Linked DNA regions of Homo sapiens: region 1 is linked to region 2. Evidence: fine-mapped QTL for protein levels in blood plasma. Region 2 holds a variant in brackets. A gene starts in the other region. All regions are shown on their forward strands.

What was found. PIP is the posterior inclusion probability: the model's chance that the variant is causal. The UK Biobank Pharma Proteomics Project read protein levels with antibody pairs (Olink). The fine-mapping took linkage between variants from a reference panel, not from the people measured, so its PIPs are less certain.
Region 1: it holds the start of TIMD4, and the variant in region 2 is fine-mapped to the plasma level of the TIMD4 protein (UK Biobank, PIP above 0.99).

The regions. Positions count from the first base shown.
Region 1 is chr5:156,959,705-156,968,047 of GRCh38, forward strand. It overlaps TIMD4 (T cell immunoglobulin and mucin domain containing 4), which reads right to left and starts at 3,522. Exons shown (of 9, transcript NM_138379.3): 1 at 3,437-3,522. The coding sequence starts at 3,494.
Region 2 is chr6:105,903,862-105,912,204 of GRCh38, forward strand. It overlaps the pseudogene RN7SKP211. Among named protein-coding and RNA genes, the nearest start is that of PRDM1, 180 kb to the right of the region's middle. The variant C/T (reference allele first, on the strand shown) is at 4,310.

The DNA.
Region 1 (8,343 bases), not on the chromosome of region 2:
ATTCTGAGCAGTCACTCTCTTTTAATTTGGTTATCTTAGAAAAGGCACATATAGGCCGGGTGTGGTGGCTCACACCTGTAATCCCAGCACTTTGGGAGGCTGATACAGGTGGATCACCTGAGGTCAGGAGTTCAAGACCAGCCTGGCCAAATATGGTGAAACCCTGTCTCTACTAAAAAATACAAAAAATTAGCCAGCTGTGGTGGCGGGCGCCTGCAATCTCAGCTACTTGGGAGGCTGGGGCAGGAGAATTGCTTGAGCCTGGGAGGCAGAAGTTGCAGTGAGCCGAGATTGCACCATTGCACTCCAGCCTGGGCATTGGAGTGAGACTCTGTCTCGAAAAAACCCAAAAATATTTTGAAAAACAAAAGAAAAAAGAAAAGGCACCTATGAAAAAAAAAACAAAATAAAACAAAAAACAGCTCACCAGGTGCTGCCTCCTTCAAGCAGGATTAGAAAATTCCCCTCAACCAGTGTCTTGCTAGTAGCAGGACATGTAGACATAGACCCCTGCAACTTTCAACCTAACAAAACCTTCCAAACTTCAAGTTTCCAGGATAAGACAAAGACAGTAAAAAAAAATTGATGAAAAGGCAGATGGTAGCTTTCTTACATCCAAACAAACCCATACCAAACCCAAAATATAAGTGTGAAAGTGACAGGGACTGCTTTCATTCTGTAGATTGTTTTTTTCTTCCCCCTTTTTTTTTTTTTTTTTTTCAGAAAGAGTCTCACTCTGTCACCCAGGCTGGAGTGCAGTGGTGCAATCTCGGCTCACTGCAACCTCTGCCTCTCTAGTTCAAGCGATTCTCCTGCCTCAGCCTCCTGAGTAGCTGGGATTACAGGCACATGTCACCACGCCTGGCTAATTTTTATATTTTTAGTAGAGACGGGGTTTCACCATGTTGGCCAGGCTGGTCACAAATTCCTGACCTCGGGTGATCCACCAACCTCGGCCTCCCAAAATGCCAGGATTATAGGCATGAGCCACCACCCCTGGCCTGTAGATTGTTTCTTCAGTGCCTATAATGTATCAAGGGTGGAACTAGGTGCTGGAATATAACAAGCCACAAAGCAGACCTGGGCTGCCCTCATGGGGCCTGCAGAGTACCTAGGAAGATAGTCAAATGAGTGAGCATTTGCTATAGAGTGACAAGTTTACAGATGCAGGAACTCCAAGGAGGATGCGAACTCATAGCAGAAACACCTGAACTATTCCAGAGGCTACAAGGTAGCCAGGAAAAGCCTGAATTAAGTAGGGACCTGAGGATGCATGGCACTACGGAGGAAAGAAAGGCAGAGAGAATAGTACAAGTTTGAGAGGTGATGAAACACATTTGTTTTCCTTCAAATATGGGTGTTTTCTCATGCACCATGTTGGAAAGGTTTCTGCACATACAAAGAGCCAAGAGGTAGAAGAAAAAATGTTTAACATTGCTAATCACTGGGGAAATGCAAATCCAAACCACAATGAGGTATCACTTCATTTCTGATAAAATGGCTACTATCAAAAAGACAAAAAGCAAGCATTGCTGGCGAGGACGCAAAGAAAGAGGAACTCTCGTACGCTGTTGGTGGGAATGTAAATTACTACAGCCATTATGGGAAACAGTATGGTGATTCCTTAAAAAACTAAAAATAGAATTACCATATGATCCAACAATCCCACTACTGGGGATATATCCCAAAGAAAGGAAATCAATTAAAGAGATATTTACTCTCCCATGTTTATTACAGCACTATGCACGATAGCCAAGATATAGAAGCAACCTACGTGTCCATCAATGGATGAATGGATAAAGAAAATGTGGTATATGGCCAGGTGCGGTGACTCACGCCTATAAGCCCAGCACTTTGGGAGGCCGAGGTGAGTGGATCGCCTGAGGTCAGGAGTTCAAGACCAGCCTGACCAATATGGTGAAACCCCGTCTCTACTAAAAATACAAAAATTAGCCAGGCATGGTGGCAGGCGCCCATAGTCCCAGCTACTTGGGAGGCTGAGGCAGGAGAATGGCGTGGACCCAGGAGGCAGAGCTTGCAGTGAGCCGAGATAGAGATAGTGCCACTGCAGTCCGGCCTAGGCAAAAGAGCGAGACTCCGTCTCAAAAAAAAAAAAAAAAAAAAAAAAAAAAGAAAGAAAAAAAAAAAGAAAATGTGGTATATAAACACAGTAGAATATTCAGCCATAAAAAAAGAATGAAACTCAGTCATTTGCAACAACATGGATGGAAACAGAGTTTATTAATATTGTGTTAAGTTAAGCTAGGCACAGAAAGACAAATATTGCATGTTCCCACTCATACATGAGAGCTAAAAAAGTTGATCTCATGAAAGTGGAGAATAGAATGATAGTCACTGGAGTCTACAAAGGATAGGGGAAAAGGGGTATGAAGAAAGGCAGGTTAATGGGTACAAAAATACAGTTAGTTAGAACATGAGGAAAAAGGGAAAAAATACAATTAAATAGAAGGAATAAGTCCTAGTGTTTGATAGCATAGTGGGGTGCCTATTGTTATTAATAATTTCTTGTGTATTTCAAAATAACTAGAAGAGAACATTTGAAATGTTCTCAGCACAAAGAAATTTAAATGTTTCAAGAAATGAATATCCCAACTACCCTGATTCGATCATTGTACATTGTATGTATATATCAAAATAACACATATGTAGCCCATAAATATGTATAGTTATTTTGTATCCATTTAAAAAAAAAATGGACTTTTGTAAAACTGCAAGGGCCATTCAATATTATCTTGTCCTAGAAGCACAGATTGTGACAACTGGTCATTTAAAAAGCCAGGTCTCTCATTTCAAATATGGGAGAGCCAGAGCAATTTAGACATATTCCCAGTGTCAACAGTTAGTGCCCGAGACGCAGCTGCAGCTCAGGCCAGAACACTTGGCTCTATACCACCAGGATGCAAAGAACTTCACTGGCCAAAACTGAGTGTGTACACTTGCATCATCCAAAACCCAAAAACAACGTGCAGAAAAGAAACCTTACATAAAGCCTCACCCCAGCAAAACAAAACAAAAAGCAAACACTTCTAAAAACAGAGGGAATGATAAGAATTATCACAATTCTCACCAGAACAAATTCTCCTGGCTTATTGATTATATGAATAACACCCATAGAGGAAATCTCTTTTCCCCAATTTATCTGACCACTTATTTCTGTGTCTCTTCTTCAGTTGCTGTTTCCAATATAAGCCCAAATTACCCCAGCCTAAAACCCCCAGACCAGTCTCTGGATAAACCTCTGTGTAACAAGGCAGGACAGAGACCCTCCACAGAAGGAAGCCTGGTAGGGAGAGGGGAGGGATGCAGAAATGAAGTGAGCTTCTGCTTCACTGAGGCCCAAACCAGTGCATGGAAATCCATCACACAATAGCAAGTCCTCTGGAAACTTCTACATAGAAGGTTTCAGAACACTTACTCAGGTAAAGCCACCAAAACTCAATCATCAGCCAGAGAATGAGAGGTTCTTTGGACATTTTGACGGTTGACCGGACCCAGGAGTCTGTCTATCTATCCAAAGCCCAACCTCTTATATCCCAGTTAATGCTGACAGGGTGGGACTCTTTAGTTTCATTTCTCTTTTTGCCTCATAATCTTCCCTTTCTCCTGTCCTACATGGCTTCCCCCAATGGGCGATGCATGATGAAATGTGCTGAGCCCTTTTCTCCTGGTGACTAGTGTGTGTGTGGAGGGATGGCGTGGACATACTTGTGCTTCTTTGTCCATGTGTATAGTGGGTTTCCTATATGTGCACAAGCATCCATGCATGTGCTGGTGCAAATATGCCTGTATAACCTGTGCATGTGCCACAGTTGTCCCAACTGCTGTACAGCCTGTCACAAAGTGCAATTGACTCTCCATACTGGCAAGTGTTTACATGTAGATTCCTCATGGGGCCAAAGCATAGTTAGACTGAAAGTTGCCTCCATTCCCATTCTAGGTTCTCCCTCACCCTGTCCCCTGGCCTCCTTGCCCTAATAATGGAGAAAGAAAAGTGAGGACAGGCACAGTGGCTCACACCTGTAATCCTAGCACTTAGGGAGGCCGAGATGGGAGGATCGCTTGAGGCCAGGAGTTTGAGACCAGCCTGATCAACATGGCGAAACCCCATCTCAATTTTTTATTTAAAAAAAAGTTTAATAAAAAAATTAAATTTTTTTTTAAGTTTTAGGAAGACACTGAAGCCCAGAACTTCCTGATTCCAAAGCTTATGGTTAATCACTACATTGTCCTTTGACCTGTGACCGTTTGGGTAATGTATCCATATGATGAGGCCTACCTGTGGCTAGCTCCTACTTAGTACCAGGAAGAAAATATAAGAATTCACAAATGTTCTAGATTTTTAAAAATCCTTAATTGATTGTAAACAGCCAGCAAACCTCAAACATTCAACATTGCTTCTACTGAAGGTATCAGTGAAAAATCTAAATATCAGGTGAGGTTCTAGACCCAGAGAAGCCAGACTAACATGAGCAGGGATGAAAATAACGGGATTCAGAGTGAATCTTCCCACTGAATGCCCACAGAACCAAGGGATCCTTTCCCCATTCTATCCCAGGAAACTGGAGGATTTAATCTCTGGATAAACTAAGTGGTCCCAATAAAACATTTTCAGATATTTATAGTTTTGAGTGTTCCCCAACAAAACCACTCAACCCTCCTTCAATAAGTTCATCAGTGCATGAGCCTCAGCCATGCATGCAGAACTGTTAATGAGTCTTTAGTGTCCCTTTCAGATATGAACAGATAACCAGGGATCATCAGACATTTGAGGAAAGCATTTAACATAAAAAAGAGACAAAAATAACAGGGAGAGCTAAAGAGAACTTCAAAAACTTTTTAAAAAGCTAATATTTTCTCAGAAAGAAAGATTTTACATTCATGAAAAAGAACATAGACATTATAAAAATGTCCCGAATTTTATGGAAGTTTTGAAAAATAAAGTTAAGAAAATTTGTTAGAAATTATAACCATCTACAAAGTCAAAGGACTAGGATTGTTTCAGAACATTAAAAAAGAAAATAGAGGAGAGGAAATTACTAAAGAAATAATAAAGGAAAGACTCTCGTAACTAAAGGAGATGACTCTCAGTATTGAGCGGGTCAATCAAATGCTAAACTCAATGAATAAAAATATCCCCAAAAAGCAAGACATTATCATGTAATATGAGAACATCAGACATAAAGAAAAGATACGAAAAGACTCCAGAGAGAAAGAACAACATATTGCACTGAATGGATTTGGAAATAGAATGGCATTGTTGTTCCAAACAACAAAGCTAGAAAATAATGCACGAATGCCTTCAAAATTCAGAGGGAAGGCCGAGTGTGGTGGCTCACATCTGTAATCCCAGCATTTTAAGAGGCCAAAGTGGGTGGATCACTTGAGTCCAGGAGTTCCAGAATAGCCTGGGCAACATGGTAAAAACCTGTATCAGCCGGGCGTGGCGGCTCACGCCTGTAATCCCAGCACTTTGGGAGGCCAAGACGGGCAGATCATTTGAGGTCAGGAGTTCAAGACAAGTCCCAGCAACATGGCAAAACTGGTCGCTACTAAAAATACAAAAATTAGCTGGGTGTGGTGGTGCATGCCTGTAATCCTAGCTACTTGGGAGGCTGAGGCAGGAGAATCACTTGAACCCAGGAGGCAGATGTTGCAGTGAGCTGAGATCATGCTACTGCACTCCAGCCTGGGTGACAGAAGGAGACTCCATCAAAAAAAAAAAAAAAAAGAGGAAAAGAAAATCTATATCTGCCAAAAATACAAAAAATTGGCCGAGTGTGGTGATGCGCACCTGTGGTCCTAGCTACTCCAGAGGCTGAGGTGGGAGGATTGCTTGAGCCCGGGAGGTGAAGGTTGTAGTGAGCTGAGATTGTGCCACTGCACTCCAGCCTGGAAAACAGACAGAGAACCTGTGTCCAAAAAAAAAAAAAAAAATCCAGAGGAGAAATTTAATTTCAACCTAGAATCCTACTCGCAGACAATCTATTTCTCAAATGTAAGATCATAATAAAGGCCTTTTTGGACATAGATTCAAAATTTACTTACTATACTTCCTTTCCTAGAAGTTATGGAAGAGAAATCTGTAGCAAAACGGGAGAAATAACCAGGAAACAGAAAGTCATGGGGTCCAGAAAACATGACATCTAACTCCAGGGAAGAAAAATTTCACAAAGAAAACTGCAGAACAGACCTAGAGGGGAACTGTTTCACTGCATCACAAACCACCCCAAAACCTAGTGCCTGAACAATGTCAATGTACTTTTCATGATTCCCTGGGATGACAGTGTTCAGCTGGGTAGCTCTCACCCAGTGACAGTGGCTATCTCAAGACTAGATTGGACTATTTGTCCAAGATAACTTTCTCACTCACATGACTGATCATCCAAAATGACACTTCTAGCTGGACTTGTATGTCTAGCAAATTAATAGAATGACTAGAAGAGATAGGGGCTGGACTGACAACTGTCTCTCTCCACATGACCTTTCTACATGGAAGCTTGGGCTTCCTTACAGTATGGTGGTCTCAGAGTAGTTGGATTTTTTACATAGGATCTGGCTTTCTCAAAAATTAGCATTCCAACATGCTCAGGAATAATCCACAAAGGTTCTTATGACCTAGCCTTAGGTAACATTCAGTATCATTTTTACAGTATTTTATTGGTCAAAAGGCAAATTATAAGGCCATCCCAGAGAATTCAAGTGGAGGGAGCAATACAAGGATGTGAATGCGAGGAAGTGTGGTTCATTGGAGTGGTAGGGGAAGCATCTTTGGAGAATAATTACTTTAATAACCACCTCAGGCTGGGGCAGAAGAGCAGAGGAATAAGCCTTGGGGTGGTGGTAGTGAGTGTCACGAATAAGCTCATGTACTTAGGTAATTTGAAAATAACTTTGATAGGTGTTTGGCAGATATGATGGAATACTTGGGATGAATTTTTTTTTTTTTTTTTTTGAGACAGGGTCTTGCTCTGTTGCCCAGACCGGAGTGCACTGGTATGAACATGGCTTAGTAAAGCCTCAACCTCCAGGCTCAAGCAATCCTGTTGCCCCAGTCTCCCAAGTAGCTGGAACCACAGGTGTGCCTCCACACCCAGCTAATTTGTTTAAATTTTTGTAGAGGCAGGGTCTTGCCATGTTGCCCAGGCTGGTCTCAAACTCCTGGTCTCAAGTGATCCTCCCATCTCAGCCTCCCAAAGTGCTGGGATTATAGGCATGAGCCACTGCCCACAGCCATGGGATGAATTTTTGATGGATACTTGGGAAATTAAGAAAAAAACACAATGAAGGCTGGGTGCAGTGGCTCACGCCTGTAATCCCAGCACTTTGGGAGGCAGAGGCAGTTGGATCACTTGAGGTCAGGAGTTCCAGACCAGCCTGGCCAACATGGAGAAACCCCATCTCTACCAAAAATACAAAAAGTTGCTGAGTGCAGTGGCACATGCCTGTAATCCCAGTTACTTGGGAGGCTGAGGTGGGAGAATCCCTTGAACCAGGGAGGTGGTGGTTGCAGTGAGTCAAGATCATGCCACTGCACTCCAGCTGGGGTGACAGAGCGAGACTCCGTCTCAAAATAACAAACAAACAAACAAACAAACAAAAAATGAGATAATTATTACAACCAGGAAAGATAAAATTTTGTACGAGAAAAGAAATGTAATTATGGTGCATTTGCTAAGTGTGAAAGATATTAATAGTTACATGCTGGTAATAATGTAAAATCTGGCTACTGGCTTAATACACCATTTTTATTTTTATTTATTTATTTTTTTGACACAGGGTCTCACTCTGTCACCCAAGCTGGAGTGCAGTGGTGCGATCTTGGCTCACTGCATGGAATACTTCGGATAAATCTCTGCCTCCAGGGTGCAAGTGATTCATGCCTCAGCCTCCCAAGTAGCTGAGATTACAGTCATGCACCACAATGCCCGGCTAATTTTTGTATTTTTAGTAGAGATGGGATTTCACCATGTTGGCCAGGCTGGTCTTGAACTCCTGGCCTCAAGTGGTCTGCCTGCCTCAGCCTCCCAAAGTGCTGGGATTACAGAAATGAGCCACTGTGCCCCAACTTAACACATATTTTGATTTGACTACACTGGAAAAATTGGTAGAGAGGAAGCGGGGTGGGGGTGTAAGAAAGCCAAAGTCTATTCACCTTTACAGGGAGTCAACAAATAGTGTCTCAAATTGGTCAATCAGACAATACCAGCATAAACACGCTGTGAGTAATATGAAGGTAAAAACCAGAAGAACAAGCTCAAAAGAGTTTAATGCAAAAAAGTGGGAAAGAAATTCACTATTTTTTTAGTTATAAACCTTTTACAA
Region 2 (8,343 bases):
CCACAACCTCAAGCCTCTAGTCCAGTCTTTGAAAATCATGGGGTCTTCCTTCTTTATCTGAGGGTACCTGAGTACATTATTTCATTTTCTCCTTAAACTCATATTTCCATTATACTTACCATGTAGAGAATGTTATTCTTATATATTGTTTGGCTTCAGAGTATTTTGATCATCTTATTATGCTTTTCCGCAACTCTATATATATGCTTATACTTATATTTATGTGTTTATATTTATATATCTGTTCCTGCTATATATTTGTATATGTATATATAATATGTCTGTACTACATTTATTTTCATATACACTGTATATATAAAAATGAGGGAGAGGAAGAGAGGAATTTTAAAAATTTTCATGTGGCCATAACAAGTGTTAAAAAGTATTCTTCTTGGAGTTATTATTACATTTATTTCAAATGTACAGTTAATCAACATCACATAAACATATTTAAAATCATATAGATAATTATTAAACATATAAAGTATGTTGTATCAGAAATGAATCTCTTGGATGTGAGGGTGATCTGGCTGCAATATCTGTCACCCCATTGATCGCCAGGGTTGATTCAGCTGATCTGGCTGGCTAGGTGGTGTCCCCTTCCTCCCTCACTGCTCCATGTGCGTCCCTCCCAAAGCTGCATGCTGGGTCAAAGAGGACAACCATCCCTGATGGAGGAGGATGGGTCTTCGGTCAAGGGTATAGGAGTAACAAGAGTAACTGCGTTCCCCTGCTAGAACCTCCAAACAAGCTCTCGAGAAATGAATCTCTTAACAAATTCAGTGGCATGTTTTTCATCCGATTAATTCATGTATAGCAGGTCTTTGAATAAACTTGTTTCCTTCAACGTTGTTTTGTTATAATGTTATTGGGAAAAAAAAATAGTTCCCAGGCTGGGCTGCCATCTGCGTGGATTTGCACGCTCTCCCCAGGCCTTCGTGAGTTTTCTCCCACATTCCAAAGATGTGCACGTTGGGTGAAGTGGCATGTCTACACGGTCCCCGTGTGAGTGTGGGTGTGGGTGTGAATGCGTCCTGCAATGAAATGGTGTCCTGTCCAAGGTGAATTCCCACTGGCACCCTGAGCTGCCCAGACAGGCTCCAGCCACCCGTGGCCCTGAACTGGAATAGACTGATAAATAATTATCTTACTTGGTTTTAGTCATCTTTTTAAAATGTATGTATAGCTCACACTTATTTTAAAGTTTAGTAAGTTTTTTTTCTTTATTTAGAAGTTTGGTGACATTTATGTGACCAGAAATATGCCATAGGAACTTAATTCTTGTTCATATCAATTAGCCTGTGGTAAAATTGGTTTCCTTATACATCATCTCACTAACATAGCAGTTTCCAAGAACTTATTGATGATATTAAGTGAGTTACTGTATTTATAATTCGATATTCCTTAATGCTAAACTGTAGCCATCTTCAGAATCAATTCTTTTCCCAATTTTTCATTTTTATGGAGGTAAGCACTGAGAAAGTAGTTGTTTTAGTCACCTAAATAGAGGAAATGAAAGACATTTTGTTATAGCAATAACACTAAAAGTTCTACGATTTTGTAGAAAGCCAAGAATTAGAAACCAATTGACTTGAAAACCAGTAAAAACAAGTAAAAACTTTTTTTTACTCCATGATTAAAGTCATTCATTTTTTCAACAGCAAAGTCAAGATTTTGAGTTATTCCTCATTTCATCCCTCAAGTAATTTTACATCCTAGGACAAAATACCCTAGTAAGATTTGCTAGGTAGTACGTATGCCTCTCTTTCGCAAAAAGACACGAAAGGTAAATGATCAGTACCAAAGTGCTGGCTATTGAGCAGATCCATTTTAGGAGAGCACATAAGGAAGGCATTTCTCTGAAAACCACGTGTGCCTGCCTACCTCGTAGGAAGTCTTCATTGCTCCAGGAATGCACGTATTTCCCCTTTGAAAACTGCTGGACTGCATGGTCCAGTCCCTGCCTGCTTTCCAATCTCACTTAACCTTTGTTTTCCCTGAGCTCCTCTGAATCATTGAGCATGTTGTTCCCACTGCCTACACATCACTTCCTCAGAGACACCTTTTCCTAGAGACACCTTTTCTCTGAGGTCACCTTTCCTGACCTCAGAGACACATTTGCTGACCATCCAGAGACACCTTTTCCTGACCATCCAGCATAAAATAGGTTTCCCAGTTTCCCAGTTATTCTCTCTCTTAATTCCCTGTTCATCTCCTTCATACTACTTATCACAGTTTGCCATCATGTATTAATTTGTATTGATTTAAGTCACCCACCTGCCCACTGTCTTTAGCATTACTTGGGAACTTGTTGGAAACGCAAATTCCCAGGCCCCACTTTAGACCTTGAATGAGAAACTCTAAAGGCAGGATCCGAAAATCTGTGTTTTGTTTTATTAAGTGTTCCAGGTGTTTCTAATACCACGAAAATTTGAGAATCACTATACGGAATCATATTCTCTATGAGGATGGAGACTATGTCAGCTTTTTTCCATCACTAAACACACACACATGTGCACGCACACACACACACACACACACACACACACACACACACACAGGACTTTGCTTAATGGTCAGCATGTGAGATATGCTCCATGATGACATCCTGTTGAATAAACTCATGTAAGAAAGAAGCTTGCCCCACAGGAAGAAGTACATTTACATAGTGACCCATTATATATGTAGAAATATATATATATATACATAACAAGTTTTACAAAATAATACCCTTACTGCATACCATACACTTCAAACATTCTCCATCCTATTCTATTTCTTTTTTTGATAAGAGGAAAACTAAATTTATTAATTTATTTCACACTTTACAAATGGGTCTATGCACAATTTGAAAAACCTTAATCAGTCAGGACTTTTTTATTTTTCTTTTTTATTTTTCTTTTGAGACAGGGTCTCACTCTGTCGCCCAGGCTGGACTGTAGTGGTGCCATCTTGGCTCACTGCAGCCTCGACCTCCCGTGTTCAAGTGATGATCCCACCTCAGCCTCCCAAGTAGCTGGGACTACAAGCACATGACACCACACCTAGCTAATTTTTAGTAGAGGCAGGGATTTACTATGTTGCCCAGGCTGGTCTTAAACTCCTGGGCTCAAGCTATCTGCCCTCTTCAGCCTCCCAAAGTGCTAGGATAACAGGCATGAGCCACCGTGCCTGGCCAATGCTGTTCTTTTAAAATTCATACCTGTGCCCCTGTTATGTTTTTAATCTGGCATTCCCTCCTCTCCTCATTTCCTCATGCCCAAATCCTACTGATTCTTGAAGGCCTACCTCTTATAGTGGATTTCTCTGATAAGATCATCTTTCCCTCTTCTGAATTCCCACTGCACTTTCTCTGTACCCAGCTTTAAGGCTTTTCTTACTTTCTCCTTTTAATATAGTGTTCATGGGATATCACTTTTCCTATTAAAGTCAATCCTTCAGAACAGAATTCAAATCTGATTCATCTTTGTATTTTTCATAGTATATACAGTGAATAATTTCAAATAATGTTTCCTAAATAAATTAGACTTTCAAGGAGGGAGCTGCTAATTTCATTTATGGTTGTGTGAAGAAATAGTTTAAAAGAAAGTAGTATTTCAACGGGTGGCTAAGAGAGGAAGCGCATGTAAGTAAAAGGGAACCATATGGGCAAATTGTGATAAGTGCCACATTTGTGTAGGAAGTCCTAGGCTTCAGTGCAATTCTAATAAAGTTGCAGGTAGGTGTTTGAGCTAGAAGTTGGAGGAGTTCTATGTTTTTCAGGAATGGATCAGTGCTAGTATTGCCATCATTGGTGGGGCAGCCAGGAAAACATGTCCTCTGCACAGATCTGAGCAGTGCATTTTAAAACAGAAAAGCAACCATATTATTCTCCTTACAGACCTCTCATGGCTTACCTTTCATTGCAGAATAAAGTCATTTAAGGTGCCCTGCCACCCAATCCCATTTGACTTCCTAGTCTTTTCTCCACCACGCATATAACATTGCCAGAATATGCCCTGCACTTTTTCTGTTTTAAAAAAAAAATTACATCTTCAGTGGCAATATGTGGAGACATAAGGGCATGGTGACTATGAAAGTGGCCACTCAGATCTCTTCAGAGGGTACGTTTCCCCAGCTGCCCCACCAATGATGGCAATATTAGCACTGACCCATTCCTGAGAAACATGGAACTCCTCCAACTTTGAGCTCAAGCACCCCCCATCTACCTACCTGCAGCTTTATTAGAATTGCCCTGAAGTCTGAGACTTTCTACACAATCCTCTTTCTTTCCTCCAGTGAGATCCGCTTTGCAGTGTGAAGGCTTTCC[C/T]GCCTATTCCTGCTTCCTCATTTTATTCTCCACCAGCATTTCCCCCACTAAATACTTTTAATCCTGTCTTGCACTTTTAATCTTGCCTTGGCGCCAGCTTCTCTGGGGACCTGAACCAACTACAGAGGGGCAGATAAAATCAGGAAGGAGGTAAGAGGCGAAAAGTTTAGGATGGGCATACCCGATTAAAACACATATATGCCCTTCCTCAAATAATTAAAACTGGAATTGTCATACGATCCAGCAATTCCACTTGTGGGTATGTACCCAAAACAATTGAAAGCAGGGACTCAAACAGATACTTGCCCACCCATGCTCATAGTAGCACGGTTCACAATAGCCAAAAGGCGGAAACAACCCAAGGGGCTGTCAGCAGGTGAATGGATAAAAAAAATGTGATGTATACATATGATACTATAGAGTATCATTCTGCCTTTAAAAGGAAGGAAATCCTGACATGCTAGATCATGGATGAACCTTGAGAACATTATATAAGTGAAATAAGCCACTCACAAAAAGATACATACTGTACGACTCCCCTTATGTAGGTAACTAGAGTAATCAAATTCGTAGAGACAGAAAATAGAATGGTGACTGGCAGGCGCTACGGGAAAGAGGGAATGGAGTGTTAGTTGTTCAATGGGGATGGATTTTCAGTTTTGCAAGATGAAAAAGTTCTGGAAATCTGTTGCACAACAACGTGAAAATACCACACTACTGAACTGTACATTTAAAAATGGTTAAGACAGTAATTTCTAGGTTATGTGTGTTTTACCATGATTTAAACATATGCCCCAAAATATGCAGATGTGTTTATCAATGTGTACATACAGATACCGAATATACAACAGACACTCAAATTTACTGAAATTGTCAAAAGTCAAAGAAGGAAGAGTTCACCTAGCAAGCCACTATGTAGAAAGGGATGTAGATCTTTTGTCAAACCACACATCTTCATAGACATAAATCCAACCAAGGTCAGATAACACCAGACAATCTTCCACAAAACGTGAGACGGCTAGCTGACCAGAGCACTCTCACCATGTCACATGCTGCCAGAGAAGCTGGGGCTACAAAATACAAGCAGATGTCAACACTTTCACCTTCCACTTTCTTAATATCGCTGATCAGGCCAAGTTTCATTTCACTTATTGGGCCACTTTCCATGTTGAGGGAGAAGGATCGAAGGAGGGCGGAAGAAAGTGTTAGGATCTGAGTTTCATATCTGCTAATGTAAACTGATGTTGCTTACTGCTGGGTTTCAAGAGAAAACTTCCCTAAATCAGCCAAGAGTTGCTCAGAAAGACATATAGACCAGGGGTTGGCAAACGTTTTTTGTAAAGTAAATACTTTATATTTTAGTAAATACAGCCTCTGTTGGTTGCAACTACTTAACTCTGATGTTGTAGCACAAAACCTACCATCCATTATATGAATGAATGTGCATGGCTGTGTTTCAATAAAACTTTATTTGCAAAAATGGTAGGCCAGATCTGGCCCACGGACCGTAATTTGCCAAATCCTGATATATAGCACTAAGAGTTCTTTCAAAAAATACTTTCCTCTAGTTTGGATTTGGATGTACTACCTGCTTTCTGGTCTTTTATCTATTAATGCCAAAAGTACACAATTAAAATCTATTTGAAAATGATCAGCTTTATTAAGCGCCAACTTTACTAGAGAAAGTGCCATGAAACAAGATCTAGCCTGGAAGAAAGAAACCAAAATAGTCATCTGATCTCAAGCTGAAGCTACTAGACCAGCGGTTCTCAAAGTATGGTATTTGGACCAGCAGTGTCATTATTACCAGGGAACTTATTTGAAATGAAAATTTTCGGGCCCAGCCCCAGGCCTACAGAATCAGAGTATGTGGGAGTGGGGCCCAGCAATCTGTTTTAACAAGCGCTCCAAGTGATTCTGATGCAAGATTTAGTTTGAGAACCACTGTGCTAGGCTATGTCTGAAGCTTCTCGTGCCTCAAATTCTCCAGCAGCAAAGTAGGAATGTTAAAGTCTTGTTATTTTCCTCTATCCCTCAGGTCACAAAGACATAGCCTAGGCTGGCTGATACACACTTAAGGTGGTTCACCTAACTTAAGTCTACTAGTGTTTAAGGTAAAATACATGTTCTTTTTTTCTTTGAATTTGGATCATCTGCATTTAGAAGAAAAGATTTGTTCTGTTCTAAATTAAATGCAGTTGACCCTTGAGCAATACAGGTTTGAATTGCATGGGTCCATTTATATTGGATTTTCTTCAGCCTCTGCCACCCCTGAGACAGCAAGACCAACCCCTCTTTTTCCTTCTCCTCCTCAGCCTACTGAACATGAAGGTGATGAGGATGAAGACCTTTATGGTGATCCACTTCACTTACTGAATAGTAAACATATTTTCTCTTCCTTGTGATTTTCTTAATAACATTCTTTTCTTTAGCTTATCTTATTATAAGACTACAGCATATAATACATATAGCATATAAAATATGTGTTAACTGTTTATGTTATCAATAAGTCTTCCAATCAACAATAGGCTATTGGTAGTTATGTGTTTGGGGAGTCTAAAGTTATATGTAGATTCCTACTGCTTGGGAGGTCAGAGCCCCAACCCCCATGTTGTTCAAAGGTCAACTATACATATTCATAAGGATTTTATTCAGCTTCATCTATGGAATGATCCATAGAGTCCTTAGGATAGTAGAGATAAGATATATAACTTGTGATACAGATTAGATCCCACCTGGGCCAGAGCCAAGATACATGTGTCTCTGGCGTGTGGAATTTGGCGATATCCAAATCCCATCCAAGTATCTATTTGCCCTCATAATTTACATAAGGACCAAGGAGAATCCTGGAGAAAATCTCAAGCCATGCCCCTGGCTGAGAATTAGATATTTGAGACATATCTGGGAGACTTGGTGGAGGCAGGGAAGGAATGAAAATAAAGAAGAATAAAGAGAGGAAGAGAAACCAGTGCACGTGCAAACACACACACCCGAAAATGAAGTTAACTATAAAGGAAAGTAATGTGAAAAACCAGCCATGCCAGCCACAATGCCCTTCAGACCCTGAGCTCCTGAGCAGAGGTGAGTCCTGACTATGGCATGGCAGCTGGCACATCAATCATTTTCCCCAGCTCTCCTAGAGGCACACAAGCACCCCAGGGATGCACGGTGGCTGGGTTCACTGGCCTTATGCATGGAAAGTGCAGGCTCATTAAGTTCTATAATGTTCCATAGGTCCAAGCAATTCTCCGGAGGCACAACATTCTTCCCACTTTGCAAGAGAATGCCAAACTCCTGAGGAGAAGCAGGAGGACTGCCAGCTCTGGAGTCAGATAAGGAACTGGCAGTACAGCAGAAGCCAGGAATTTTGTAGTCAGGGGCACCATCAGAGCTTTTATTAGGCACCCTCTGTGGACTTATTCAACACTTGGGGAAGGAAGTCTGTGCAAAGTCCTGGAGTTCCCAAGTGAGCTAGCTGGAGCTTGGAGGCAGCAAGATTCTGGTAATTATGTTAATGTAAATTTATTGTCCCCATAAGATGGTAAGGTTGAAGGATGTGTGTGATACCTTTTGTGCCCTGTATCAGATTCTCTTTGCCCCACCTTTCACTTATTCCAAAAACCACTGTAGCGACTGGTTTTGCACAGACTCCAATCAACCTCACATAAGTGTAACCCAAAGAACCATTCCTTAAACAAGCCTCTTGCCTCCCACTCCAGGGCTTCCCTGTTGAGTCTGGGGAGAGGGGTTTTTAACACACTTGGGGTGGAATTTTGACCAATGGGGTTAGGAACTGATTAATAAATGTTTCCATCTTCTCCCCCCTGCAACCTCCAAATGAAATGGAAAACCATTTCAATCAGTTTCTCAAGCAGACCCAGGGTGATCAAGTACCAGTGGCCCACAGGGTGATTGACTCTATATTACACATCTGCTTTGTGTCTCCCTCCTTCTCTAGTGCCTCCTGGAATAATTGCACTTATAAGTTTGGTTCAGACTCTGCTTTTTTAGGAACCCAGGCTGAGGCAGGAATA